4 linked regions of the Homo sapiens genome follow. The main gene of each other region encodes a partner of the protein of the gene in region 2 in a complex. Each region holds a gene or a part of one and is shown on either strand. Other genes may lie near its edges. The genes, in order: SMC4, NCAPH, NCAPD2 and NCAPG. A codon is read from its position in the direction of its gene.

What was found.
Region 1: NCAPH (region 2) and SMC4 share a complex: the UniProt entries of both Homo sapiens proteins name them as parts of the condensin complex.
Region 3: NCAPH (region 2) and NCAPD2 share a complex: the UniProt entries of both Homo sapiens proteins name them as parts of the condensin complex.
Region 4: the proteins of NCAPH (region 2) and NCAPG are in contact, whole or in part, in a crystal structure (PDB 6IGX), measured with the Homo sapiens proteins. Residues at the interface, in NP_056156.2 of Homo sapiens: Glu471, Ile472, Asp473, Phe474, Glu475, Asp476, Asp477, Ile478, Phe480, Val482, Tyr483, Phe484, Arg485, Lys486, Thr487, Ala489, Ala490, Thr491, Ile492, Leu493, Gln501, Asn502, Trp503, Ala505, Thr506, Thr507, Leu508, Phe512, Tyr514, Val516; in NP_071741.2 of Homo sapiens: Lys11 (codon at 4,570), Phe14 (codon at 4,579), Arg15 (codon at 4,582), Gln18 (codon at 4,591), His50 (codon at 5,719), Tyr51 (codon at 5,722), Lys53 (codon at 5,728), Tyr54 (codon at 5,731), Val55 (codon at 5,734), Met56 (codon at 5,737), Val57 (codon at 5,740), Glu62 (codon at 5,755), Ala64 (codon at 5,761), Val65 (codon at 5,764), Val68 (codon at 5,773), Phe102 (codon at 5,875), Ser106 (codon at 6,379), Glu108 (codon at 6,385), Ala109 (codon at 6,388), Asn110 (codon at 6,391), Ser111 (codon at 6,394), Val114 (codon at 6,403), Arg115 (codon at 6,406), Ile149 (codon at 6,508), Arg150 (codon at 6,511), Lys152 (codon at 6,517), Asp153 (codon at 6,520), Lys154 (codon at 6,523), Arg159 (codon at 6,538), Glu188.

The regions. Positions count from the first base shown.
Region 1 is NC_000003.12:160,416,650-160,423,649, forward strand, and holds part of SMC4 (structural maintenance of chromosomes protein 4), read left to right. Parts: intron 1-1,073; coding exon 1,074-1,307; intron 1,308-2,708; coding exon 2,709-2,894; intron 2,895-4,090; coding exon 4,091-4,252; intron 4,253-6,775; coding exon 6,776-7,000. UniProt on the Homo sapiens protein: Central component of the condensin complex, a complex required for conversion of interphase chromatin into mitotic-like condense chromosomes.
Region 2 is NC_000002.12:96,331,906-96,338,786, reverse strand, and holds the start of NCAPH (condensin complex subunit 2), read right to left. Parts: upstream 3,022-6,881; 5' UTR 2,958-3,021; coding exon 2,939-2,957; intron 1-2,938. UniProt on the Homo sapiens protein: Regulatory subunit of the condensin complex, a complex required for conversion of interphase chromatin into mitotic-like condense chromosomes.
Region 3 is NC_000012.12:6,489,448-6,497,101, reverse strand, and holds the start of NCAPD2 (condensin complex subunit 1), read right to left. Parts: upstream 3,001-7,654; 5' UTR 2,948-3,000; intron 2,027-2,947; 5' UTR 2,004-2,026; coding exon 1,877-2,003; intron 1-1,876. Other genes in the region: MRPL51 (large ribosomal subunit protein mL51), read left to right, coding at 3,966-4,044, 4,130-4,240, 4,635-4,831. UniProt on the Homo sapiens protein: Regulatory subunit of the condensin complex, a complex required for conversion of interphase chromatin into mitotic-like condense chromosomes.
Region 4 is NC_000004.12:17,806,539-17,813,985, forward strand, and holds the start of NCAPG (condensin complex subunit 3), read left to right. Parts: upstream 1-4,440; 5' UTR 4,441-4,539; coding exon 4,540-4,650; intron 4,651-5,682; coding exon 5,683-5,886; intron 5,887-6,378; coding exon 6,379-6,607; intron 6,608-7,447. UniProt on the Homo sapiens protein: Regulatory subunit of the condensin complex, a complex required for conversion of interphase chromatin into mitotic-like condense chromosomes.

The sequences.
Region 1 (7,000 bases), on a different chromosome or scaffold from region 2:
AATACAGTACCTTGATTATTATATATGCCACTCCTAAGCGTGTTGAATCATCATATTTTGTTGCCACCTGTAAAACCTGGAGCCACACTAAGCGCAGGTTAATGTCTCTTTTGTTTTTGCTTCTATAGCTCTTGTGTAATAGTTAAAAGCTGTGGCTCTTGTTTCAGTTCTTGGTTCAAATCCTAGGTCAATCACTTACTGTCTCTGTTCTTGTGCCGGTTGTCATATCTCCAAGTCATCTTCCTTAAAATGAGAAAGAATATATCTACTTTGTGAAAATAAAGAATAAATATATCTATATAACGTACTGAGAAAGAAAATAAATGTTAGCTATAATTTTAGCATTATATTAATAAAACGAGAGCATGAAGTTGTCACATTGATATGTATTATCTACCCCAACAAGAGTAAGCATAAAATTATCTTTGTTTGTATGTACCACAGCATTTTTGACAGTGCTAAGCATGTTAAATACCTATGTTAATGGATAATGGTAATTGACTGCATTAAAAAGTCATGGTAGAGTCTGCTTTGGCATATCAACATGTTCTAATGTCAAACTATAAAACTTAACAGGTTAGAATACCTGTGTGATGAAGTGTCACTTAATAGAGTCTGCTTTGGAATATGGACATGTTCTAATGTCAGATTATAAAACTTTACAGGTTAGAATACCTGTGTGATAAAGTGTCAATGGATAATGCAGTAGCTTTCATGATGGGATACTTCATAGTTAGTGGATTTTCACTGTTTGCTTATTTAATATATATTGAGTACTCATGTGCCCTGCACCCCATGTTAATGACAAAGCTAGGCCTCAAATGTCTTTATTCCTCAGCGTAATGATCGATCTCACAAAGCTCTTGTGAAATCAGTTGGGAAAAGACTATGTACAGTGAATATTGACAACTAGGCAAAAACTGAATCTAGTCCACTTGTGAGAATTTCTTATTTCTATATACTGTGCTTATAGAATCTCCTTTCTTAAATCGAATATAAAATGTATGGTTTCATTTCAGTGTAGGTTTGAAAGTAAATATCTGTCCAGATTTAATGAACTCATATTTTAACAGAGTCGAGAGAAAGAACTTATGGGTTTCAGCAAATCGGTAAATGAAGCACGTTCAAAGATGGATGTAGCCCAGTCAGAACTTGATATCTATCTCAGTCGTCATAATACTGCAGTGTCTCAATTAACTAAGGCTAAGGAAGCTCTAATTGCAGCTTCTGAGACTCTCAAAGAAAGGAAAGCTGCAATCAGAGATATAGAAGGAAAACTCCCTCAAACTGAACAAGAATTAAAGGAGGTAAATCTTTGCTTCTCTGTTGCATCAGAACATCATTCGTCCACTTCAGCTTTATACATTTTTGTTTTTAATCTCCGCGTCAGAGGTGACTAGTGATAAATTTTCTTCATTTTGTATAATCTCAAAAGAATGAGGTCAGCATTTCAGTATTCCATATGTGAACTGAGACTATCAAGAAACTATATTATCCCCAGAAGCACCATATAGTAAGTAAATCACCACCACCACCCCACTGTAGAAATAATTTAAACAAAAGAAAGTTTGTGTTTCTTTAAATCTTAAGTATAGACAATTTAAAGATAAATAAAAAACAAGTGTATATGTATTTATATAATGAATATACAAACAACTATCTTAATGTGTTTTGGGTTTTGAATTTATGGATGTAGTTTCTTTGCTTGCATTCCAAAATGTTATAAACTAACTAAGATGTATAGCTTATCGGTGCCTGTCCCCCATCCTTGAGTGAATTAGATGTCTAAGGAATTTCGTAAACTTTAATCTCCAAAGATCTCCAAAACCTCAGTAGGCAAGGTGGCAATAAAAAAAAAATCTGTTTGAAGTGTAATTATACTGAAAATAAATATGAGTCTTTTTCATTTTAGTTAATGCATGCTATTTGGTCATCAGGGAATTTCATGACCAGGTAGAATTTAAATGTAAATTAAGTTAGATCCAGTGACTGCTTCTGTCTTCCTGGGATTCGGTTTCTTTTGGGATGAATTATGTCAGTAACTTGGTTTAAACTTTATGCCAGTACAGTAAGTAATAGACATAATTTAAATCTAGTGGATGGAGGAATATACCAGTTAGAAAAGATGGCTGCTGAGAAGTTGGAGATTGAGAAACAGAGGTTGTGTTTATGTGTGCATGTTTGTGGTTCCTTTCTTGTTGGGAGCCTGGCATTTTTGTATAGCAATAGGACTATCCAGTCATCTTTCGTTTCAGAGGTGTGCTTTTTCTCCAGTACCCCCCAGCCCCGTTCAGCTAAAATAAAGCACAGCATAACCGTAGTCCTGCCCAGTCATTTTCTGGGTCAGCTTTTCATTAGGGCAGAGCTGAAGAATTAGGGCACACTTATGTATAACTATGTAGTATCAAACTGGGATTTCCACAGCCCCAGCTATACTTCTCTATCAGGATGAACTGTTTGCTCCTGAAAAAAATATTACACCTAATGTTTTCTTTTATTGACCCAAGTAATTTATGCCCCTTTTAAACCCATCCATATTTTCCACAACCAAACCAGCAATTGCCATACAGGTGCTCAGTTTTGGTTCAAATTTTTATTGTTGGTCTTTCTTTCTTTATTGTTATTAAAGCATTACAACTAATTCAGTGCTATGACTGGTCATATTTAGAAGTTAATGCTTCTGGATTTCATTTTATTTTCACTTTTAGAAAGAAAAAGAACTTCAAAAACTTACACAAGAAGAAACAAACTTTAAAAGTTTGGTTCATGATCTCTTTCAAAAAGTTGAAGAAGCAAAGAGCTCATTAGCAATGAATCGAAGTAGGGGGAAAGTCCTTGATGCAATAATTCAAGAAAAAAAATCTGGCAGGATTCCAGGAATATATGGAAGATTGGTAAAGTAGATTTTTGGGGGGCATGGCTTTACTTTTTTTTTTTAAGAAAGTGTAACTTATTTTTTTGCCTTGACAACCATATTTCAAGTGTCACTGTATATAAAATAAGATTCATTTTGTTTGTTTTAAGGCACATTTATTTTTAAACATTTTGCCCTTACAGTTTCTTGTTTACTTAGCTTTAGATAAATACAATTATTTCATACATATCAAGAAAAATACTAGTAATGTCACACAAACTTAAAACCATTTTATCCTTTTTTTTAAAAGAGAGACTTTAGCCAGGCACAATGGTGTGTGCCTGTAGTCCCAGCTGTTGGAGAGGCAGAGGCAGAAGGATCACTTGAGCCTAGGAGTTCAAGTCCATCCTGGGCAATATAGCAAGACTGTTTTTTAAAAAATGAAAATTAAAAAAAATTTTTTTATATATTTGGGGTTTCACACCATTTTACTTAGGTTTGGGCTAGCATTTAAGGATATAACAAGGGATAATCTAAAAATCCAAGGCTAGCAATAGTGAGGACCATTACTGCTTCTTAGCTTCGAGGGAAGGGAGTTGTGGTCCAGAGGAGATGGGGAAAATGGATACCTTAACCCCACCTATTTCCTGCCCTCCAGTCTTAGCTGAAACCTCAAATTGGCTGAAGGTGGAGAGTCAAAGGAGCCAGTTGATGCAGTCCTTAAGTCAGCCTTTCGGAGAAGGGAACAAATTGATGTAAAAATTACCCAACATGATTGCTTCTGCATCTTGTATCGGGACTTCCACCTTATTTTCTTAAAGATAAACAGTTTGATCCTATTCATTTGCTCTCAAAGAAAGCCCAAACCAGTGAATACTGCTAGATAGTTGTGTAATAGATAAACAGATAAATGTGTTTCATCAGGATTTACATAATTTTAGATGCTTTTCAATAATTCAAAGTTTTCTGAGTTTTGCTTATAGTTCATTTAGGTTTTAAGCTTCATGTTGTTTTCATAAAATGAAAACAGTTCTTTCATTTTGTGCTCATTAGAAATTCAAGCTGCATATTCATAAACTTATACATATTTTGTATTTTGTTGTGTACCCTTTTGTTCTCTTTAAAACCATGTCTACATAAAGTTTTTCAATTAAAAGAAGTTTTTAAAACTTGATGAATGAAATGGTCCTGTGCTTTTCTGCCTAACTCTTTTTTCACCCCACTCTTCATTATTAGGGGGACTTAGGAGCCATTGATGAAAAATACGACGTGGCTATATCATCCTGTTGTCATGCACTGGACTACATTGTTGTTGATTCTATTGATATAGCCCAAGAATGTGTAAACTTCCTTAAAAGACAAAATATTGGAGTTGCAACCTTTATAGGTTTAGATAAGGTGGGTATTCGTAATAACCTACCTATAATTGGAATTTTTTTTTTTTGAGACGTAGTCTCGCTCTGTCACCCAGGCTGGAGTGCAGTGGCATGATCTTGGCTCACTGCAAGCTCCGCCTCCCGGGTTCACACCATTCTCCTGCCTCAGCCTCCCGAGTATCTGGTACTACAGGTGCCCGCCACCACACCCAGCTAATTTTTTTGTATTTTCAGTAGAGAGGGGTTTCACTGTGTTAGCCAGGATGGTCTGGATCTCCTGACCTTGTGATCCGCCCACCTCGGCCTCCCAGAGTGCTGGGATTACAGGCGTGAGCCACCACACCCAGCCCTATAATTGAATTTTTAAGTGCTAAGTGTGTTTTTCTTTTTGGATTCAGGCTTTTTCTTAATGGTTACTCAGTGAACACCTGATGGGTTTTGACGATTATTTTATGTTCTGGGGTTATATGATTATAAAAAATTGTTTGACATTTGCAGTGCCTCCACTAAAGGAATGTACATTCCAGAGTTAAAAGGAAAACCTTTATTGAGATAATTTACCTACAATAAAATTTATCATTTTAGGCCAGGTGCGGTGGCTCATGCCTGTAATCCCAGCACTTTGGGAGGCCAAGGCGGGCGGATCACGAGGTCAGGAGTTTGAGACCAGCCTGGCCAACATGGCGAAATCCCATCTCTACTAAAAATACAAAAATTAGCTAGGCATGGTAGCAGGCGCCTGTAATCTCAGCTACTCGGGAGGCTGAAGCAGGAGAATTGCCTAAACCTGGGAGGTGGAGGTTGCAGTGAACCTAGATTGCGCCACTGCACTCCAGTCTGGGTGACAGAGTGAGACTCAAAAACAACAAACAAAACAATCATTTTAAAGTATGTAATTTGGTGGGTATTAGTATATTCACAGTGTTGTTCACCCATGACCACTATCTAATTCCAAGATATTTTTATCACTCCCAGAAAGAAACCCCATAGACAGTAACAGTCGCTCCCTATACCCCTTCACCCCCTCCGTAACACTAACTACTTTTTTGTTTCTGTAGATTTATCTACATATAAATGGAATCATACAATATATGGCCTTTTTATACAGCTACATTTACTTAGCAGGTTTTCAGGTTCATCTATGTTGTAGCATGTATCAGTACTTCATTCCCTTTTATTGCCAAATGGTATTCTGTTACATCATTTTGTATAACCATTTGTCAGTTGATGGACATTTGTGTTTTCACTTTTTGTGCTTTGGCAATACTTGTGCTACGAACATTTGTGTACAAGTTTTTGAGTGAACATGTATTTTCAGTTCTCTTGGGTATATATATACCTAGGGTAGAACTGCTGGGTCATGTGGTAATTCTATGTTTAACTTTTTGAAGAACTGTCAAGATTGTTTCCACAGTGGCTGTACCATTTCCCACAAGCATGTGTAAGGGTTCCAGTTTCTTTACATCCTCGTTAACACTTGTTATGGTACATCTTTTTGATTATAGTCATCTTAGTGAATATGAAGTGGTATCTCATGGTTTTGATTAGGATTTTCCTGGTGATTTATGATAGTAAAAGTCCTTTCATGTCCTTGGCCATTTGTTATCTTCCTTGGAGAAATGTCTGTTTCAAATCCTTTGCCCATTTTTTAATTGGTTTCTCTTTGTTGAGTTGTAGGATTTCTCTATTCTGAATACAAGTCTCTTGTGAGATATGATTTACAGATATTTTACCCCATTCCTTGGATTGTATTTTCACTTTCTTGATGGTATCCTTTGAGGCACAATTTATCTTTTTTTTCCTTTGGTTGCTTGTGTTTTGGGTATCATACCCAAGAAACCACTGCCTAATCCAAGGTCACAGTGATTTGCCTCCTTTGTTTTCTTCTAAAAGTTCTATAGTTTTGGCTTTATATTTAGGTTTTAATCTATTTTGAGTTAATTTTATCACGTGATATAAAGTAGGGCTCAAACTACTCTTTCCATGTGGCTATCCAGTTATTCCAACACCATTTGTTGAAAAGATTCTTTACCCCATTGAATTTTCTTGGCATCCTTGTTGAAACCACCCAACCATTAATGTAAAGGTTTATTTCTGGGCTTTCAGTTTTATTACTTGTGCTGGTATAGGACACTGTCTTGATTATTGCAGCATTGTAATAAGTTTTAAAATCAGGAAGTCTGAGTCCTCTAATTTTGTTCTTTATCATATTGACTGTTCTGGGTCCCTATAATTTGTATATATGACTTTTAAGATCCAGATGGTCAATTACTGCCACAAAAAAAGGCGAGGAAGTAACTGGGATTTTGATACAGGTTGTATTGAATTTGTAGATCAGTTTAGATAGTATAGGCATCTTAACGGTATTAAATCTTTAGAACCACAAACATGAGATGTCTTCCGTTTAGGTCTAATTTTAGAACCTTTTGTGTATAATTCTTGTTTCTTTTGTTGAATTTATTCCTATGGGTTTTTTTTTGTTTTTTTTTTTGAGTTTTCTTTTTTGTTAACTGTTGTTTTTGTTTGTTTGTTTGTTTACTTTTAGATGGCTGTATGGGCGAAAAAGATGACCGAAATTCAAACTCCTGAAAATACTCCTCGTTTATTTGATTTAGTAAAAGTAAAAGATGAGAAAATTCGCCAAGCTTTTTATTTTGCTTTACGAGATACCTTAGTAGCTGACAACTTGGATCAAGCCACAAGAGTAGCATATCAAAAAGATAGAAGATGGAGAGTGGTAACTTTACAGGGACAAATCATAGAACAGTCA
Region 2 (6,881 bases):
TGTTCTCTTGCAGCTGTGGAGGGTTACATTCATTCTGGAGGCTTTGAGAGGAGGATCTGTTCCTCGCCTTTTGCAGCTTCAGAGCTGCCTACATTCCTTGGCTCACTGTCCCCCCATCACTCTAACCTCTTGTTCTGTCATCACATCTGCTCTCACTCTACCCCGACGACCTTCCTCTTACAAGGACCACTGTGATTAAACTGGGCCCACCCAGATGATCCATGATAGTCTTCTCAACAGCCTTAACTTAATCACATGAGCAAAGTCTCTTTCACCACGTAAGATAACATATTCACAGGTTCTGGACACCTTTAGGGCAAGTGTTATTCAGCCTATCACAGTGACCATCCAAAATAAAAGGTAAAATTTGCTGAACAATGTACTCAAGCAGGCAAAGAGGTTGCCTTTGTAGAGAGCACAGAAAGCCCATCCTCAGTAACAGGAGAAAAGACAGAGGCACTGGCACAGATGCAGGCAGGGAGCAGGTGCAATGGCAGACTTGGGGATGTTCCTTTTTGTTTGCTTTTTTTTTTTTTTTTTTTTTTCAATAAAATAGGAAGTAAAAACAAGGCTGGGCTCATGCCTGTAATCCTAGCACTTTGGAGGCCAAGGTGGGAGGATCACTTGAGGTCAGGAGTTCGAGACCAGCCTGGCCAACAAGGCAAAATCCCGTCTCTACTAAAAATACAAAAATTAGCAAGGTGTAGTGGCGCATGTCTGTAATCCCAGCTACTCGGTAGGCTGAGGCAGGAGAATTGCTTGAGCCTGGGAGGCAGAGGTTGCAGTGAGCCAAGATCAAGCCACTGCACTCCAGCCTGGGGGACAGAGCAAGACTCTGTCTCAGAAAAAAAAAAAGGGTTGTTGGAGTCAGGGAACCAGAGAGTGAATTAGAAAGATATAGGTGGTATTGAGAAGTGGGGTACTTTGCCAGGCATCTGTGGTTCCAGCTACTCAGGAAGCTGAGCCTGCTTGCGCTCAGCAAGGCTGCCGTGAGCTAGGACAGCACCTGTCAATAGCCACGCACTCCAGCCTGGGCAACACAGCAAGACCCTGTCTCTAAAAAATAATAGGCCGGGCGCGGTGGCTCATGCCTGTAATCCCAGCACTTTGGGAGGCTGAGGCGGGCAGATCACAAGGTCAGGAGATCGAGACCACCCTGACTAACACGGTGAAACCCCGTTCCTACTAAAATACAAAAAATTAGCTGGGCGTGGTGGCAGGAGCCTGTAGTCCCAGCTACTCGGGAGGCTGAGGCAGGAGAATAGCGTGAACCCAGGAGGCGGAGCTTGCAGTGGGCCGAGATTGCACCACTGCACTCCAGCCTGGGCGATAGAGCGAGACTCCGTCTCAAAAAAAACAAAAAACAAAAAACAACAAAGTAAAAATAGGAAGGGAGGAGGCAAGAGACATTTTTAGAAACTGAATCAAGAGGACTTATGAGGACAGTATTTGGATGTGAGCACAGTAGGCTACAGGCTAAGGAAGGAACCTGGACCTTTGGAGAGGATACCTTAACAGAAATAGGAAGCACTTAAGGAGAACCTTGTCTAAGAGAGAAACTAAACTTGGAATTAGAGGCATGCTTTAATTCTCCAAATCTTCTTTCCGTGGTTTCTCTCCTTGCCTTTGATATTATGCATCCATTCATTCAACCGATGGTTACTGAGCTCAAAGACACTTCCTATGTCTACTTCCTCATTTCCCACTCATTTTTCAACCCACTCTGGTCTGGTTCCTATTCCAACTTCATGAGAACTATCTTTTCGTGATCATCTATAACTTCCATGTTGCCTAAACCCTATGGTCATTTTCTGGCCTTTCTCTTGGAATCCAGCAGCATTTGAAACAGCTGACAGTCCCTTCCTTGTTGAAACACTCTTGGCTTCTTCCTATACCACTGTCTTTTGAGTTTTTCCAGCTCATCCTTCTCTATCCAGCTTCTAAACGTTGGTCCTAGATGTGCAGGGCCTTCCTAGTGTTCTCACCTGTTCCCATGGTTTTATGGTCTAATGGTCTATATGATAATGGTATCCAAATTTATTTCTCAATCCATGGGTCACTTCCCTGAGTGGTCCATATAACTCCCCTGAGAGCCAAATTCTCACCTAAGTGATTATAGATCCCTTCACCTGAGTCTCTCCCGTAAGTCACACATACCATGTCCAAAATGTAACTCAATTTCCAAATCTCTTACCCAAGGCCTCCAGACCCTGCCTACGTGTCAGGCCTCACTAAGCTTGGTCACAATGTTCTGGTCAGGTCCTAGGCCAGGCCAGGCTCTTCCCTGCCTCATTTTTGTACTTGCTCCTTCTGCCTGAAACACGTTCCCTAGTATCTGCCTAAAGATCTTCCCTGAACCCCTGGCGGAGCCACCCCTACTCTGCTATACTCAATCACAGCACTCAGCCTCATGTGTAATTATTTCTTTTGTTTACTGTCTGTCTCCCCAACTCCAACAGTATAGAGATATTATCAATTTTGTTCGCCCAACGGGAGAGCTCAGTACTTTTGAATAGATGCAAAAATAAATGCATGCATGCTAAGCATACAACGGTAACCACATCGCTTCCAAAGCCCTGAAAATAACGTCTATTCCAGGAAAACCACCATTTTAATGGAGAGACACCGAGCACGCTTTAGGAGCCCAAGGAGGAGGCCGCCCCACCGCCCGCCCGGGAACTGAGGAGTGTGAGGCAGGGCCCGCGCGCTCTCCGACTCCGGCCGAAGCCGCTTTCTGATTGGCTGAGCGCACAAGGTCCGCCCGCCCCGCGCCGGCCCTCCCCTCCCCCCGCACCGGCCTCTGCTGTCAGCCGCAGGGCCAAGACCCGAGCTGAGCATATCCTCTCTCCCCGCCCAGGCCAGCCCGCCAGCCCTGCCCGCCCGAAGTACTGCTTCGCTAGGGGCCCTTCCCGCCGCGCCTCCCGACCGCCCGGCTCACCTGGGCCGGGAGGTCCCATCTTTCCTTGGCGTCTCCTGAGCTGGTTTTAAATCGCGCGCGTCGAGACGCCTGAGCGCCGTAACGGCCGCGTGACGTCGCCGGCGGGCCGGGCCAGCAGCGCGCCTGCGCAGACCACCTCGGGCCTCCGCGGGCGGCGTCAGAGTGAGTTTTGGGTTGAGGACCCCGTCTGATTGGGCTTCTTGGGGTCGGTGGACCCCCTGAAATAGTATGAAAACCCCCTCCTTCGAGGACTAGGTGCAGGACTGGGCTTGGGAACCCAGCGTCGAGCAGGGTGAGCAAGGCCCGTCTTTCGTGGAATTTACTTTCTTTTTTTTTTTTTTTTGGGACGAAGTCTAGCTCTTGTCCCCCAGACTGGAGTGCAGTGGCGCGATCTTGGCTCACTGCAACCTCCGCCTCCTGGGTTAAAGCGATTCTCCTGCCTCAGCCTCCCGAGTAGCTGGGATTACAGGCGCCTGCCACCACGCCTGGCCAATTTTTGTGTTTTTAGTAGAGACGGGGTTTCACCATGTTGGCCAGGCTGGTCTCGAACTCCTGACCTCAGGTGATCCGCCCACCTCGGCCTCCCGAAGTGCTGGGATTACAGGCGTGAGCCACCGCGCTCAGCCCGTGGAATTTACTTTATAATGGGGAGGCAGATGATCGAGAAAACGAGGTTTATTTCCCTTAGAGATCTGTGCTGTGTGGGCAGCAAAACGCTGAAAACCTCCGGGAAGAGGGACGGAGGGGAGCGGGAGCCTACGTGGGAATGAGGAGCGGTCCAGGTGGGGAAGAACTGATGCAGAAATGCTATGTATACATTAAATATAGTACAAAATGTACATTTAATATAGTGTAAGATGAAGGCCATCGTTTTATTCAGATTCTTGTGAATAGCTTCCTGTGAACACCCCCCACCCTTCAAAAAATAAATAAAGGTCGAAAAAGCGAAATAAGCATAAAATGCCATCTGTCCCCTCAGTTTCATCTAACCCTAAGGATTGAATTATGGGAGTAAAGGCCAGGGTGATTCCCTGGAATATCCCCAGCACATCCTAGAATTTCTTGTAACTCTCATATCTGGCATCTTTTACAGTGTTTCTCTTCAAGGGCACTGTTGGCATTCAGGGTGAAACAATCCTTGGCATGATAGGATGTTTGCCCTCTTTGTGGGCTCTTAAGCCCCCGTAACATCATTTGCCCACTAAATGCCATCAGTGCTGTCGCTCATTTTGGCAATCAAAAAGTGCCACCCTTTGTTGAAAACCACTTTTTTTTTTTTTTTTTTTGAGACAGAGTCTTGCTTTGTTGCCCAGGCTGGAGTGCAATGGCACGATCTCAGCTCACTGCAACCTCCACCTCCCAAGTTCAAGCGATTCTCCTGCCTCAGCCTCCTGAATAGCTGGGATTACAGGCGCCCACCACCACACCCAGCTAATTTTTGTATTTTTAGTAGAGATGGGGTTTCACCATGTTGGTCAGGCTGGTCTCGAACTCCTGACCTCAGGTGATCCACCCGCCTTGGCCTCTCAAAGTGTTAGGATTATAGGCATGAGCCACTGCGCCTGGCTGAAAACCACTTTTTAAGCCTATCTGTTGTTCGTATAAACTTGTTCTTCTAGTGACCACCTTCAAATCTTCAGCGTAAGGCTGTGTGGGTTAGAGAAAACAGGTTGACACTGTTTATCTCAGCAAATGATACCATCAGCCACCCAAGAACCCAAATCAGCACCCAGGAGTCATCCTGGGGGATTCCCTCCCTTTCTCTCCCCACACAATCCATCATCAAGCAAGCTATTTTCACCTCCTAAAAATTGCCAATCCTGCCTTTCTCCTTCCATCCACATTACCTTCTCACTGGCCTGCTCTGGCCCCCCCTCAGGCCCTGAGTAGTGTATGCGGAGTCCAAATCTGAGCTGTCACTCCCACTTGTCCCCCACCACTTCCTCCCGGAAGTATAACACTTCAGGGGTTCCACCACCCTGGGAACCTCTAAGCGTCCTACAAGGTCCTGGAAGGGTCTTCCTGCCAGCCTCCCCACCCCTGCAGCCTCTCCAGCCTCCTCAGGGACCTTGCTCCCCTTGCTCCCTGCCCTCCAGCTGCCCTGGCCTTTTTTCAGATTCCTCTCATCACACCTGCTCCTACCCCCAGGCCTCTGCACACACACACTCCTCTAGCTAGGATCCTCTTCATCCCCATCTTCACCCCCGTAGCTCCAGTTAGGTTTCTACTCCCCTCAGGTTCCTCAAGGAGACCTTCCCTGATACACACAACTCTCCATACTGGAGGCTTCAGGAGAACTTGTCACAGCTGCAATTTTCCATGCACTAGGGTGACTATTTCATGTCTGTCTCCTACATAGACCGTCAGCTCCATGAGGATGAAGCCATATCTGTTCACTATGGTTTTCCCATGGCCTGGTGCTGGCCCTGGACATAGCAAGTACTTAAATATGTATTCAATGAGTACATCTGGAAGACAATTTTAAATCCTGGGTTGGGCATGTTAACCTCTCTGGGCCCCATTTTCTTCCCCGTCTATAAAATGGGGAAGGCACTATCCCCGCACTGGACTTGGTCAGTATATGCTGGGGTCCCTGTCATCTCCCTCACTTGTTCTCTCTGCTGAATGCATCTGAGGGAGGACACTGGGACAAGTGTGATCCTCTGGATTCCATGTGTACATAAGAGTAGCAAGGGTTAGGTGATACACTGAATCAGGAGCCTCTGAAGAACAGCTTGGAAGCCCTGGGGGAGGAAAGCTACTAAGTGACCCACTAGGTGAGCCTTGAGGCTGTTCTGTGGGAATAATGGAGCCACCTGAGCTGCTTCCAGCTTCACGTGCAGGAAGGCAAAGCCAGCTCCATGCCCAGTGTCTCTCTGGGCCAGGGCTGCCTTATGCGGGCAGGTCTTTCACCTCCTGCTCTGAATGCCATCTTTGTTTTGTTTTTAGGACTATGAAGGGTGCCAAAAGAGTGAATGATTTGGCCGGGCGCGGTGGCTCAAGCCTGTAATCCCAGCACTTCGGGAGGCCGAGGTGGGCAGATCACAAGGTCAGGAGATCGAGACCATCCTGGCTAACACAGTGAAACCCTGTCTCTACTAAAAATACAAAAAAAAAAAAAAAATTTGCCTGGCATGGTGGCGGGTGCTTGTAGTCCCAGCTACTCGGGAGGCTGAGGCAGGAGAATGGCATGAACCTGGGAGGCGGAGCTTGCAGTGAGCCGAGATTGTGCTACTGCACTCCAGCCTGGGCAACAGAGCAAGACTCCATCTCAAAAAAATAATAATAATAAATAAATAAAGAAGAGTGAATGATTTATCACTGATCTCAGTGGTGTACAAAGCTCAATACCTCTGTTTGTGCAAAAGTAAAGTAGTTAAGGTTCCTCCACTAATCCTAGGCTGCCAGAAAAGCAGAGCTGGTGTCGTCTTCCTTCCCCACCCCATTTTACTCTTCATGGAGATTCTACTTCCCCCAAATAAATGGGAAACTGCCTTAGTTTAGGTGAGAAACAATAGTGTTATCCATTGGCTACCTGAACAAGCAATCTTTTGGCTTCAAATTTGCCCTGACTTTCCAGCCTGCAGCTGGCTTATATAATGATGTAGTCTGTGATAGAAACCATCAAGTCACTGGGACTTAGTAGGCATATAGTTGAAATGGCTTTGCGTTCGTTTTGGCCTCCAAGCAAATGCCTTTTTTTTCTTTTTTTTTTTTTTTTTGAGACGGAATTTTACTCTTGTTGCCCAGGTTGGAGTGTAATGGCGCCATCTCGGCTCACCACAGCCTCTGCCTCCTGGGTTCAAGTGATTCTCCTGCCTCAGCCCCCCCAAGTAGCTGGGATTACAGGCATGCACCATCATGCCCAGCTAATTTTGTATTTTTAGTAGAGACAAGGCTTCTCCATGTTGGTCAGGCTAGTCTCGAACTTCCAACCTCAGGT
Region 3 (7,654 bases), on a different chromosome or scaffold from region 2:
TCAAGTTTAGGGAGGCTCCTAGGTAATAAGCTTGATCAGTTAAACCAGTCTGGGTAATTCTATTTCTCTTACCTGTACAGTCCTGTGCCCTGTAACATTTTGGTAAACAATAGACCACATATGCGACAGTGGTGTCATAAAAATATAATACAGCTGAAAAATTCCCATCGTCTAGTGACTTCTTGGTGACCTTGACCCTGTGTAGGCCTAGGCTAATGTGTGTAGGTGTTTTAGTTTTTAACAAAAAAGTCTGGCCGAGCATGGTGCCTCATGCCTACAATCCCAGCACTTTGGTACATGTCTGTGGTCCCAGCTACTTGGGAGGCTGAGGTGGGAGGACTGCTTGAGCCTGGTAGATTGAGGCTGCAGTGAGCTGTGATCAGGCCACTGCATTCCAGCCTGCAATCCCAGCACTTTGGGAGGCTGAGGCGGGAAGACTGCTTGAGCCCAGAAGTTCGAGACCAGCCTGGGCAACATAGGGAGACACTGTTTCTACAGAAAATTTAAAAATTAGCCAGGTATGGTGGTGCATGTCTGTGATCCCAGCTGCTTGGGAGGCTGAGGTGAGAGGATTGCTTGAGTCTGGGAAGTTGAGGCTGCAGTGAGCCGTGATCATGCCACTGGACTCCAGCCTGGGCAAGAGAGTCTTTACCTTGTCTTTCAAAATAAAATAAAGAATAAAAAGTACAAAAAGAAAATTCCTTTTTCCACTTCTGGACATTAGAGGAAGAAGCTGCCATCTAGACTGGTGCAGTGGCTCACGCCTATAATCCTAACACTTTGGGAGGCCAAGGTGGGTGGATCATGTGAGGTCAGGAGTTCAAGACCAGCCTGGCCAACATGGTGAAATCCCGTCTCTACTAAAAATACAAAAATTAGCCAGGTGGTAGTGGCGTGCACCTGTAATCCTAGCTACTTGGGAGGCTGAAGCAGGAGAATCGCTTGAGCCTGGGGAGGCAGAGGTTGTGGTGAGCCGATATCGCATCACTGCACTCCAGTCTGGGCAACAGAGTGAGACCCTGTCTCAAAAAAAAAAAAAAAAGAAAAACAAAAAGAAGTTGCAATCTAGCAACCATGAAAGAAAAGCCAAGAGGAGACAAGCTAGGACCATATTGTCGAGCTGCTGCATTAACCAACCCTTCTTCTTGTAGGTGATAACAAAGGAATTGGTTATTATCTCTATATTTACAGATGACGAAACCAAGGCACTGAGACAATTAAGTAACTTGTCTAAGGTCAGAGTGGTAGAACCAGGATTCAAATCCAGGCAGCCTGGCTCCAGTCTTTAATCTCTATACCTCTCCAAAGCAAGCTAACTGCTACAAGACCGCTCCCAACAAGTACAAGGACATTATGAAGTCTTTCTGGTAATGCAAAAGGTGCTTTTGATCATTTACAGGTTTCAGTAGGTGACTGCACTGTACATATATTGCTCAGTGTTGCAGTGGTACATATATATTATGGGTTTTTGTCCCCATAATTGCACATCCAAAAAGACTCCAAAAAGGTATTACCAAAAACAGGTCGAGTTAAGTCCGAGACATTCTGAAAAAGCGATCCACTCCTATAACTCTTAAATCCACCAGGACTTAATTTTGACACACAGTAAGGGGTAAAGATGGAAAATAACTTTTCCCCAAAGAGTAATCACATACACCAAGACTGTTTTTGACTAATCCAGAAAAGGAAGTTAATGAATGTACTCTTTGGGTCATGCATCCCATGCAATTTTAGGATAAAACAGCAAAATAGGAAAAACATGTTTCTTGCTCTTATGATGCTTCCTGGTGTAGTGGAACAGAAATGACAATGTAGCAATTCCATGTGAGATGGTCCTTTGAAAGAGCTAGGTACAGTGACAGCTATGGACTCTTACCTCTAAGCTGTGGTGGAAGATGTTTGATGGACAGTACCTCTTGCACAACATACTGATTCACCCCTCCACTTTTCAACAACTCCTCTGGGGATAATGGCAGATGGAACTCATACATTTGGGGAGCCATTCTACTCCTACAGGCTCACAGGGCTAGAAACCAAACAGTGAAAAAGTCAGGGTCTATATTCAAGACCTGTCTTCGTATCTGGTTCTATTACTTTCCCATCCCCAACATATATAATGGCTTTTAGTTTTATAGCAAGCTAGTAACATCATCTGGTTTTGTTAGTTCCCCACCCCCAACATATATAATGGTTTTTAGTTTTATAGCAAGCTAGTAACATTATCTTACGGGATCTGAGATTGACCCTGGACTAGAAACTAATTCTAGTAGTGACTTTGGCACTTGGTCTTGACACTTAAACCTCTGGGCTTTATCTGTAAAAACAGGGTTACTAAACTCTGATTACTTCACAAAGTTGCTCTGATGATCAAACAAATCAAGCAGTACGAAGGTGTTTAAAGAACTATAAAGTGGCATATTAATGTGCAAAGTACTATTATTTCCATTTTTATGTGCAAAGCTCCTTAAGTATAGAGAGAATGGTCTGATCTCGTCTGAGGCCAAAACAGTGCCCCAGCATGGGCTAGTGGGCTTCCTGCACCAGAATGGTAAGAGCATTAACAATGATGATTTATTTATCCTGTGCCAAGTCTGTTAGGCTGTTTGCATGTATCATATCTGATCTAAGTATCCTAACCTCAATCCCATGAGGTGCATAATAATACAAATGAGTTTACAGAGCGGAAATTGAAGTAAGAAAGTTAAGCGATTTGCTTAACATCTTCCGTTGCGGATCTGTTAAGCGATTTGCTTAACATCTTCCGTTGCGGATCTGTTAAGCGATTTGCTTAACAACTTCCGTTGCGGATCTGTCAGACTTACAGTTTCTCACACATCGCGCCCCAGGGATATACTTACTAGGCCTATTGTATTTTGCCCAAGACTGGGTCACACTGCCATGTACTCGACTTTCCTACTCTTTTACGACCTGCAACACCACATCTTACCTGGGGATCTCACCCGCGGCTCTGATTCCGGCAGTCAGGCTGAAATGAAAAGGAAAAAACACGCGTGCACAACACGCACCAATTAGCAAGGCAGTTTTCAAGTCGGCGGAGAATCCGGCCAATCCCCGGCAGGCAGAGGCAAAGGGCCGCCTCTGAGTCTGGCAACGCGCGGGCAAAGCCACAAATACCGAGTTCAAATCTCAACGGCTGCAGGACGGCCAATCGCGACGCCCGCCGGAGCGGCCGGCCAATCACAGCGCCGCCCGGGGGCGGGCCAAGGCTCCGGCTCCGGCCCCCGCTCCCACCCCCGGCCCGCCTGCGAATCCCTCCTTGGCCGCAAGGTCCCCCTTTGCCCAGTCGGCGGGGAGGAGGCCGTATTTCTGCTGGCCAGAGACGTCGCGTCCCTGGCTGGGCATTCAGTCACCCCCAGGAAAGGAGGCAAGTCCACGCTGGGAGTTAGAAGGCATCGCCTCTAATCCAGGTTTCGCCATCTCCTCTGCTAAGTGACGTCCAGCAAGTCACTTCACTTTCAGGACCTCAAATCTCCTCCCCAGTAGTAAAATAGGGGTAATAAAAACAGCTACAGCGGAAGACTGTTGTGAGGCACAGAGAAAGGGCTTGGTCATTGGAAGCGGGTTCCAGGTTCTCAACCTTCATTTCCTTCACGGTTGAAGGACGCCAAAGAAAGCGGAAAGGGTGAATTTTCTTGAAATCTCAGTTTTGGGGAATCTTAGCGACGAGTCGCGGACCTCAGCTTGTCCGGCGCTCCAAAACTTCCGGCAGGCGGACCGGAAGCACTGAGGCGGGAAGGGTGGTAGAGGCCCCTCCTGCCGGAACCCGGGGGGCGGGGCTCGTGGCTGTTGCGGATGGGGCGTAGGTGGGCGGTGCGCCCACAGCTGCCTGGGTAAGGCCCAAGATGGCTGTCTTCGCCTTAGTACTCGTGTGAAGTTGGCGGGGACGGTTCCTGTCATCTTCTTGGGCTTATTTGGTGTGCTGTTGAAGGGGGGAGACTAGAGAAATGGCAGGGAACCTCTTATCCGGGGCAGGTAGGCGCCTGTGGGACTGGGTGCCTCTGGCGTGCAGAAGCTTCTCTCTTGGTAAGTGGCTGATGTAGGCACCCCGATAACTGCTTCGTAGTATAATAGGCGGCTCAGATTAATTCCCTCCCTTCCCCATCCCCAGGTGTGCCTAGATTGATCGGTATAAGGCTCACTCTCCCGCCCCCCAAAGTGGTTGATCGTTGGAACGAGAAAAGGGCCATGTTCGGAGTGTATGACAACATCGGGATCCTGGGTAAGACTTGACCTTCGACGTGGTACACAATTTCAGAATGGCAATTAGGCTGTAACGACTATCTTTTCCTCCTGTGTAGAGAGTGGTACTGTGCTCAATAGTAAGAGCAAACACTTATGTAGCTGTTTACATTGTGTTTGGCACTGTTCTGAGTCCCCTCGTATAATTTTTACTTCATAAGTAAAAATAAACAGTTTTTCCAAAGTTAATAAATGGCAGCATCAGAATTTTAACCCCAAGCAGTCTGGCTCCAGAGTCTGTGCTATTGTTCTGTACTGTAATGTTCCTTGTCTATAGGTGCTGCTCAGCAAGATGCAACCGTGGGTTGAAAGCTTAGCTGGTGTAGGATGAGTTCTCTTGTCTTGGATCTAATGTGTTCTCTCACATTACACAGGAAACTTTGAAAAGCACCCCAAAGAACTGATCAGGGGGCCCATATGGCTTCGAGGTTGGAAAGGGAATGAATTGCAACGTTGTATCCGAAAGAGGAAAATGGTTGGAAGTAGAATGTTCGCTGATGACCTGCACAACCTTAATAAACGCATCCGCTATCTCTACAAACACTTTAACCGACATGGGAAGTTTCGATAGAAGAGAAAGCTGAGAACTTCGGAAAAGGCTCATCTGTCACCCTGGAGAAGGGAAACTGTACTTTTCCCTGTGAGGAAACGGCTTTGTATTTTCTCTGTAATAAAATGGGGCTTCTTTGGAATTTGATAGCCACATACTTTTGTTTTCCTCTAGATGCTGCCTCTACTCATGTAGACTATGAAGTCTTGACTCATCCTAGATCTTAGGATCTTAGGTTTGGGCTTCACACCACTTGCCTTTTACAGTCTAGCTATACCTAATTCCTTTAAAAAGAAAAGTTGGTGAGAATGTTATTGGCGCTTTTTGACATAATGCTGTTATGTTAATAGTGTTTCTAAAGAGCCTTCCACACTGAAATGAAATATAAGAGAAAAATGGAGTCATACTTCTGTACTACTCTCATAAAATATTTATTAGGCATATTCTCTGAGTAGGAACTATAGGAAAAACAAAAAAGTGTGAGGTGTCCTTTCCATTTAAATATGAAACATTAAGTACCATATGAATGGTAGAGATGGCGGATACTAAGCCTGACTGGTCATCAGTTTTCTGGGTGTTTTAACATTTCAAAAGCCTAGTCCTAACCCCTAAAGATTGATCAGTAGAGCTGAGTTGAGTCTAGGGCATCTATGTGTTTTGTTCTTTTTTAATAATAATTTTTAAGAATTACAGCTGGGCAGAATGGTGCCCACATGTAATCCCAGCATTTTGGGAGGCTGAGGTGGGAGGATTGCTTGGAGACAGGAATTTGAGACTGGTCTGGGCGACATGGTGAAACTCCGTCTCTACTAAAAATAAAGTGGCTGGGTGCGGTGGCTCCTGCCTGTAATCCCAGCACCTTGGGAGGCGGAGGGGGGCGGACCACGAGCTCAGGAGATCGAGACTATCCTGGCTAACACAGCCCTGTCTCTACTGAAAATACAAAAACAAACAAACAAAAAAATTAGCCAGGAGTGGTGGCGGACACCTGTAGTCCCAGCTACTCAGGTGTCTGAGGCAGGAGAATCACTTGAACCTGGGAGGTGGAGCTTGCAGTGAGCCGAGATCGTGCCACTGCACTCCAGCCTGAGCAACAGAGCAAGACTCTGTCTCAAAAAAAAAAAAAAAACAACTTAGCTGGGCATGGTTCTGCATGCCTGTAGTTCCAGCTACTCATGGTTCTGCGTGCCTGCAGTCCCAGCTACACAAGAGGCTGAGGTGGGAAGATCACCTGAGCCCAGGAGTTTGAGGCTGCAGTGAGCTGAGATCATGCCACTGCATTCCAGCCTGAGCAACTGGGGTGAGACTGTCTCAAAAAAAAAAAAAAAAAAAAAGTGAAGTTAGGGCTGGGTGCAGTGGCTCACACCTGTAAGCCCAACACTTTGGGAGGCCAAGGCATGAGGATTGCTTGAAGCCAGGAGTTCAAGACCAGCCTGGGCAACATAGCAAGACCCCATCTCTATATTTTAAAAAACAAAAACTCCATAAAAGTGAAGTTAGATTAATAAATACTTGTTGCGGGGCATGGTGGTTGGAGCACACTTATAATCCCAGCTACTCTGCAGGCTGAGGTGGGAGGATCCTTTGAAACCAGGAGTTGGAGGCCAGCCTTAGGAACATAGCAAGACCCCATCTTCAATAAAAATAAAAAGCACTTGTTAAATTACAAGTGGGTTTTGGATAAATGGATTGATGGGTATATATGAAAACATGATCCTGGGTCTTACGGAAATGTTTAGGAGAGTCAGTTTTCAGAGGGGTGGCTGGAAGGAGCTATGCATAAGAATGGAGAAGTTGATGTGAAATGTGAGTGGCTGTATACTTTACATGATTTGGTGGTGCTAGAGTGGAGAAAATAAAATATTTGGGACTCTGCTAAGTGCAAGGTGCCCTGAAGAAGATATCTACATATCCTGGTAGAGTATCTGATTGTTAGGGAAGAGGAAATTAATAGGTCAATAGGCATTTATAGAATATTTCCTGATTCAAAGATACAAAAGGTTTTGTTTTCAAGGACAGAACAATCTTGTTTGTGGTATGAAACAGTATATAACGTTTTCTTTGAATAAATATTGAATTATTATGTGCAAAGATATTTGGAGGAACAAAAATCACCAAGGTAGGGTTGGTTCCTACCTCTAAGTAGTCTTCATTCTACTTAAAAGATGTCCGGTGGCTCACACCTGTAATCCCAGCACTTTGGAAGGCCTAGGTGGGCGGATCACGAGGTCAGGAGATCAAGACCATCCTGGCCAACATGGTGAAACCTCGTCTGTACTAAAAATACAAAAAAATTAGCCAGGTATAGTGGTGTGTGCCTGTAATCCCAGCTACTCGGGAGGCTGAGGCAGGAGAATCGCTTGAATCCGGGAGACAGAGAGGTTGCAGTGAGCTGAGATTGCACCATGCACTTCAGCCTGGGCAACAGAGGGAGACTCTGTCTTTAAAAAAAGAAAAAAAAAAAAAAAAAGACGTCTGAAGGATGTAAAGTTACAAGATGGTGGACCAATGTGATACTCTGCAGAATGTGCAAATGGTCCACATTTTTTAGATTACATCATGACAGAGAACAGAATTAACATAGCCCTGATGAAAGACCATGACTGTATACTGTTGTTCATCCCCTCCGTGGTGGACTGCTTCTGACCAACATGCTTTAGAAAAGAATGTTGGTTGGGCATGCTGGCTCAGGCCTGTAATCCCAGCACTTTGGGGGGCCAAGGTGGGCGGATCACCTGAGGTCAGGAGTTCGAGACCAGCCTGACCAACATGGAGAAACCCTGACTACTAAAAATACAAAATTAGCTGGGCCTGGTGGCACATGCCTGTAATCCCACCTACTCA
Region 4 (7,447 bases), on a different chromosome or scaffold from region 2:
TGTAAGACCTAATAAACAATATAGATGATAATTTAAAATACAGACATTCCATGCTCTTGGATGGAACAAATATCATAAAGATATCAACTTTCTCCCTATTAATTTATACAATTCCAATCAAATTTTTAAGGAACTCTATAAACAAACCTTAAAGTTTATATAGAAAGAATAAAATTCCACATATAGCCAAATGAACTGTTTAAACAGTAAGGGAGTTCCTATTCTTCAAGGTATGTCCTATGACTAAAGTCACAGACATTAAAATAAGGTAGGATTAGCATAAGAACAGACAATAGTCCAATAGAGCAGAATAGAGCTTAGAAACAGAGCTATATATAATTTGGGAATGTAATATAAAATAAGGTTGGCACATAAACTAAGGGTGAATGGATATGTTTAGTACATATTATTGGTACAACTGGCTCATTATATGAAAAAAAGTAAAACTGTATTGGAATAAGAATTAAGAAAAAATTAAGAACAAGGTTAAGAAAAAAATGAAAAGTAAAACCATTTAATACATATACATATAATGACATGTATAAGGGAGGATTCATGATGGATTAAAGACCTAAATGGGGATGGTAAAACTATATAGTTAGTTAAATATAATACAGAATATCTTTGTGAAATGAGGCCAGGGAAAGACTTCTTAAACAAAAAAGCATAAAGCACCAGACCAAAAAATGAATTTAATCACATCACAATTAATCATTTCTGGACTGAACTAAAGATACCAAGGACAAAGTTAAATCAATTTTTAAGAAAGCAACTTCAATAAAGAAATGAGCAATGGACAAAGATATCCAAATTATAGAAGAGAAAATCCCAAGGCATGAACAATATGATCACATTATGCTATCAGTTTGGTAGAATAAGAAAGCTGGATAACACCAAGTGTCAGTGAGTTCTTTTTTGGAACTGGCACTGCTGGTGGGATTGCAGAGTGGAGTAACTGTTCGGAAGAACAGTCCGGCAGCACTACTTAGGCAAACTATTTGCACATCTCATGATCTAGCAATCCTACTTTTGGGCATAGATAGCAAAGAAATTCCCGTATGAACAACATGTATGAAGATATACCCTGAAGCTACATCTGTGATGACAGGAATTAGAAGCATTCTAGGTTCCTATCGCTGGAGAAGCGGACTGGTAAAATGTGGAAACACATTCCAAGTATATACAGCAACATGGGTGGCCTTTAAAGGCATAGCTTTAAATGAGAAAAGAGACAATATCAATGTCTCGTTTATGCTACTCTGTAGGGGGGATTTCCAAAATCAAAGTCAGTGAACATTTTCATTATCGAATACACTGAGTTGTGCTAATAAGGTCATATGGTATGGCTTCAGGTCAGCAATTTTCCTCTAATGAGTATTTCTCTGGCTTTCACACACTCCTAGCACAGTGTCTGGCATATATGAGTGGCTCAGTAAATAAAAGAGTCAGAGAATGGCAAAGGCCTGCAGTAAGTAACTACCACAAGCATGTTCTATTTTACTCCAGGGAGAGAACAGTTCCAAGTTATATCTTGGTGATTTGGTAATGTTAGACAAAGACAAATGAGATAATTTTTTTAAGGCAGGATCAACATATATGATGCTACTACAGCAATATAAAGGAAACTGCTTATAACTTTAAGAAGAAACAATGTAATACTTCTAAGTTTAGATTATAGTACTATTACCTTGTTCAATCTGAAAAAGAGTATTCATTCTTTGTCGTGGACCGTAAGTCTTTATTAACTGAGACAGGAGAAGCTGTTGGCTTTTAATTGTGCTGTCCTCTAATATTTTTACTATTTTCACTTCAACCAGATTGCACCTGTGAGATTACTAATTGGCTATACTTCAGTTATTATGTTACTCAGAAAATTTTTAAAAAGGCTCTTACTTTCCCATAATTGTTTTTGTTCTGTTTCACAGTACAAAAGTCAGGAAAAATGTAAGCTTTAAGGCAGTATACTATGTTGTTTAAATTTAATCTAGCACCTTTGAAAAAATATTTTCAGATTATAATATCAAAAAATACTGAACCAATACCCCCATGGCTTTAACCATTAAAACAAAACAAAACAAAAAAAAAAACTAACCGAAATATAGTTAGGCTGACCTCTGGCGGCCAGATGTCTCATTCTTCTGTAACTGACAAAATGGTGTGATGTCTCTGTTGGTGAGACAGCCAAATAGAATATAGTAAAGAAATACTAGCCGGGCGCGGTGGCTCACGCCTGTAATCCCAACAGTTTGGGAGGCAAAGGCGGGTGGATCACCTGAGGTCAGGAGTTCGAGACCAGCCTGGCCAACATGGCGAAACCCCGTCTCTATTAAGAATACAAAAGATTAGCCAGGTGTGGTGGTGCATGCCTGTAACCCAGCTACTTGGGAGACTGAGGCGGGAGAATCGCTTCAACCCGGGAGGCAGAGGTTGCAGTGAGCCGAGATCGCGCCATTGCACTCCAGCCTGGGCGACAGAGCAAGACTCTGTCTCAAAATAAAAATAAAAAAATATATATTAGAAACGTCACAAAGCAAAATTATGGGCAACACAAATGTTACCACATTCTTAACTAGCAGCTGAATATCTACAAAGTTTGAGGAATTAAGCAGGAGAATGGATAAGGTATGGCATATTAATACAATGGAGTACTATAGCAACCTGTCTGTGCCGTAGTTTCCTCATCTTAAAAGAAGATCAAAGTTATCCTACAGGGTTTGTGAGCAGTAAACGAAGTAAAGTGCTTAGCATGGTGTCTGGCACATAATAAAGGTTAATTAAGTGCAAGTTACTATTATGAACATATCAATATGAACCACAGCAATATTGATTGAAAAAAGCCAGATGCACATATAATTATTCATTTAACGGTTAAAACATGCAAAATAGTACAATATCCTCATTCAGGGATTTATTCATGTCATTAATATATTAAAATATGTCATTAAGATATAGAAAGCTGCATGGTAAAAGTTAACAGTAAATTCAGAAAATCCATTACTTCTTCGGAGGGCAGGTAATTCAAAAGGAGAAAGATGTACAGGTGGCTTTAGTAATGTTCTATTTCTTCAGCTGGCAGTAGGTTACTGAGGTGTAGGAGAGGGAAAAACGGCTTCCCTCCATCCTCCTAGGTTCTTTGGCTGGGTTACAAATTAACCTGACATAGACATTAACAAGAAAAAAAACCCGTACTTAATTACATACGCAGAGGAGTCCCACCATGGTCAGATGATTGAATATTATACAGCATCCTACGCTACTCAAGAAATGGGGGCTTGCGGCTTTCTGGGGGATGGTGGCCACAAAGTTGTGGAAAGGTGAGGGGAGGAAATATACGGTGAATAAAAGTTGTCTTGGTATGCAGATAAGATCTCCCAGGTAACAAAAATTATCGCAGAGCTGCCCTCTTTCTGATACAGATCCTTTACTGATGTATATTTCCTCTGTAGATGTCAATTTCTTTTACAACAGGACAGATTTTCAGAGCGACTCCTGTGTCTGCATTTTATCAGAATACCAGCTCAAAATATACTCTAGAAGTATATTGTAGGGTGGCATATTTTGGTCTCCTACAGTCCTATTTTTGGATGGTGCATCCTGAGATCCAACAGAAGTTCTGTCTGATATAATTTCATTTAAAATTTAAAAACCTAGTTCCTACTCTTCTTTATTTTAACCACTACCCGAAAGACCTTTCCATTCTCTTGAGTTCTCCCTTAATACACTGTCCTTATGCACACTTGTAAACAGGGCCTACACAGCTGCACATCTAGAAACGGCAGCAGCTAAGTTAGCCCGCACCCCCCTTCGCAACGATCCCCGGACTGCCTGCACGCCCTGTGGAACCTCGCAGTCGGCTTCACCAGGGCAGGGACTAAGGCCTTCAAAAGACAGCATCCGTCTCCACTAACCTCGGGTCGCCCCGCTCAGCGGACCCAGCAGCGTCGTCTCCCTTCTCAGAGGTGGCCGGGCCTCCGGAACGCGCTACGAACTTTCCTTTGTCGCCGTCTCTCGAAGCGGAGCCCTCGTGTGGGGATCCCCCGCCCTTCGGCCACAAGGGAGGTTGTTATCCTCGGCAGATCTCCCGTTCTCACTCTTGGAGGATCGCTTTTTCTTTCTAGCCTCACGCTCAGCCGCACGACCCAGCCAGGCCTAACGCCAGCAGCCCTTCCCCTCCGGTGGCAAGGCCACTCCGCTCAGCTCCCGCGCCGACGCTACTTCCGGCCGAGTCAAGGCCCCTCCCCCTTAGAAACGCCACTTCCCTCCGTGAAAACGGCTGGACAAGGTTGAACCTAGACGCATGCGCCCAAAGCGCGGGGTGCGAGGTGGGTGGACCCATCGCTTCCCGCTCTCTTCTCCCAAAGCGCTTACGGCAGTCTCGCGGGATTTCCCCCTCTCGCGGGAATTATTTGAACGTTCGAGCGGTAAATACTCCCTGGGGCTGTCATAGAAGACTACTCGGAGAGCGCTGCCTCTGGGTTGGCGGGCTGGCAGGCTGTAGCCGAGCGCGGGCAGGACTCGTCCCGGCAGGGTTCCAGAGCCATGGGAGCGGAAAGGAGGCTGCTGTCGATTAAGGAGGCCTTTCGGCTGGCGCAGCAGCCGCACCAGAACCAGGCGAAGCTGGTGGTGGCGCTGAGCCGCACCTACCGCACGGTAAGCGCTCCCGGCCCCGGCCGCCGCCTCTCGCCCGCCCCGGCCCACCCTCCCTCAGGGGCCCTCCGTGGCCCTCGGGCTCGGCGCACCGTGACTCCAGCCTTGTTCACCTTCGCGACTCACTTCATAGGGATCTGAGGTTCGGAGAAGTCAGGGACTTACCCGAGGTCGCCTGGGCCCAGGCCAGAAAGCCTCCGAAGCCTGGGCGTCGTTCACACGGGCCCCGCCTTGGCTTTTCTGAGCCGACACCCCCAGCTTCTGGGCGGCGTGGACCGTTATTCCTTAGTCCGATCGTGAACGTGGAGAGAAACATTTACGACCACCGAGGCGATCAGACATCAAATATTGAACCGCAGAGTGGATCCTGAATGCGGGGGTTCAGTGGTCGTTGCCCCTGGGGTCATCGCTCCCCGCCGAACATCAAATGATTCTACCCTTGTCCTACGGTTACGTTGAATCCAATCACCAAATACCAAATTATTTTTAGGGCCTGGCCATTCTTATTTATGTACATACTATTTGTTTGTTTTGAGTGGAACCTTGAGAAGAATAGAACAATTAATTTGGGGAAGATGAATTATCTTGAGGTCCAAGAAAAATTGTGAGTAAACATCACAGGGCTTTGAGGATATGAGATAGGATGTGCAAGTTATCTCATAAAGAAACTGCTGGTGATAGGAAGGCCTGAATATGAGAAATATAAAAGCCAGTATTGATTTTGGGTTGTTGAAGAAGCGTATTTGTAACGTACTGGTACTAAAGGCTTATTGAGAATCAAAGATATTGAAAAAAATATATCAAAGGAATCTTTTCACTGTCAAAAGTCAAGCTTGTGTACTCCCATTATAGCCTGGAGAGAAATTCATGCAAATTGATTGCCCTTTGGCTGGTTTGGATAATTAAGAGTTTACTAAATAAATATTTTAATTTGTCTGCATTATTATGGCTAGTGCTTTCATCAGTCTTAGGGTGATGTTGGGAATAAAGGATTTTTATCGGTGCAGTTTATGAAGGGTTTCTTTTGTCTTTCAGATGGATGATAAGACAGTTTTTCATGAGGAGTTCATTCATTACCTTAAATATGTTATGGTGGTCTATAAACGTGAACCAGCTGTGGAGAGGGTAATAGAATTTGCAGCAAAGTTTGTTACCTCATTTCACCAATCAGATATGGAAGATGATGAGGAAGAGGAAGATGGTGGCCTTTTAAATTATTTGTTTACTTTTCTCTTAAAGGTACTATGAAAATGATAGCTTTGGGGAGGGATTTTAGAAAATTTTGCCACTTTAAAAGAGTCGTGGGAGTTTGTATGTTTTTGACAATGAAATATCTAGTGATTGAAAAAACCTGAATGAGTCTACCTTTCATAGGAAATATTAGAATTATCATTATGATTAAAAAGTGGACTTTAACTCCAGCATTAAATTTTTAATGACCTCTTTAAACCAGTTCTCCTTTGTTTATTTTAAATGAGTTCTGTATTTTAGAAGCCTCTACAAAGAGGACTATGTAACTTAGCAAAGACTTCTTTCAGACTGTTCATTTTGAGACTGTATAAAATATATATATTTGCTATACATATGGACCAAGGTAGCATTATAGGTTCTCTTCAGGAAATGAATTGTTGTTGTAACTTCTTGCATTCCGAATGTATAGAGTTCAGATAATATTGATTATTTGGGAGTGGTATGTGACTATGAATAAATTTTGATTTGTTTCTGTTTTAGTCTCATGAAGCAAACAGCAATGCAGTGAGATTTAGAGTGTGCCTGCTCATAAACAAGCTTTTGGGAAGTATGCCAGAAAATGCTCAGATTGATGATGATGTGTTTGATAAAATTAATAAAGCCATGCTTATTAGATTGAAAGATAAGATTCCAAATGTGAGAATACAGGCAGTTCTGGCGCTTTCACGACTTCAGGATCCCAAGGATGATGAATGCCCAGTGGTTAATGGTGTGTGTAGTTTCCTAAATCTTTTTTCAGATTTGTTGATTTTGTTAAATTCTCAGTATTTGAAATTTTTTATTATGGTCTATACATTTGAAGAGTATAGGTAATTAATATATGATTCCGATTAAACAAAAAAAACCTAAGTAGCAACCACCCAGCTTAAAAAAAAAAGTCAGTACTTGCATCCTATCCCAGTTGCATCCCTGTCCCTCAGAAGTAACTATTAAATCCTCAGTTTGGGGTTAATTAGTCTCTTGCTTAAATTAAAAAAAATTTTTTTGCATAAATCACATATGTCTATCTTAATGTTTTCCTGTCATTTTGTGTAAATCATGCTGTATGTATATATTTAGCAGCCAATTATATTTCTATATAATACCTGTTACTGTGTTTTGCCCATTTTTTCATTGGGTTTTTAATTTAAAATACTATTTTAAAAAATTCATTTGCATTCTTTATATATTTTGAAAAGAAATCCTTGGGTTATATGAATTGTAGATCTCTTCCTGTTTTAGGTGGCTCATTGGGGTATCATTGTTTCACTCCCTTTGGGGTATCTTTTTTTTGAACAGAAATTCTTATGTCAAAAATATAAATCTCTGCCATTATGATTCGTATTTTTTAATCTCTTTTTTAAGGAACTTTTTCTTACCTATGGGGTCATAAAGGTAGTTGTATTTCATTTTTCCATATATGCCTAGGTATGTTTTAGGCACTCTTCTGTCCTTTTTGTCCCTATTACCAGTTTTATAATCACTGGTATATTTATCACTATAGTAGTTGGTATTTTTTTTGGTGTTAAAAGATACCCATAATAATATTGTGTAAAACATAGGTATTTGA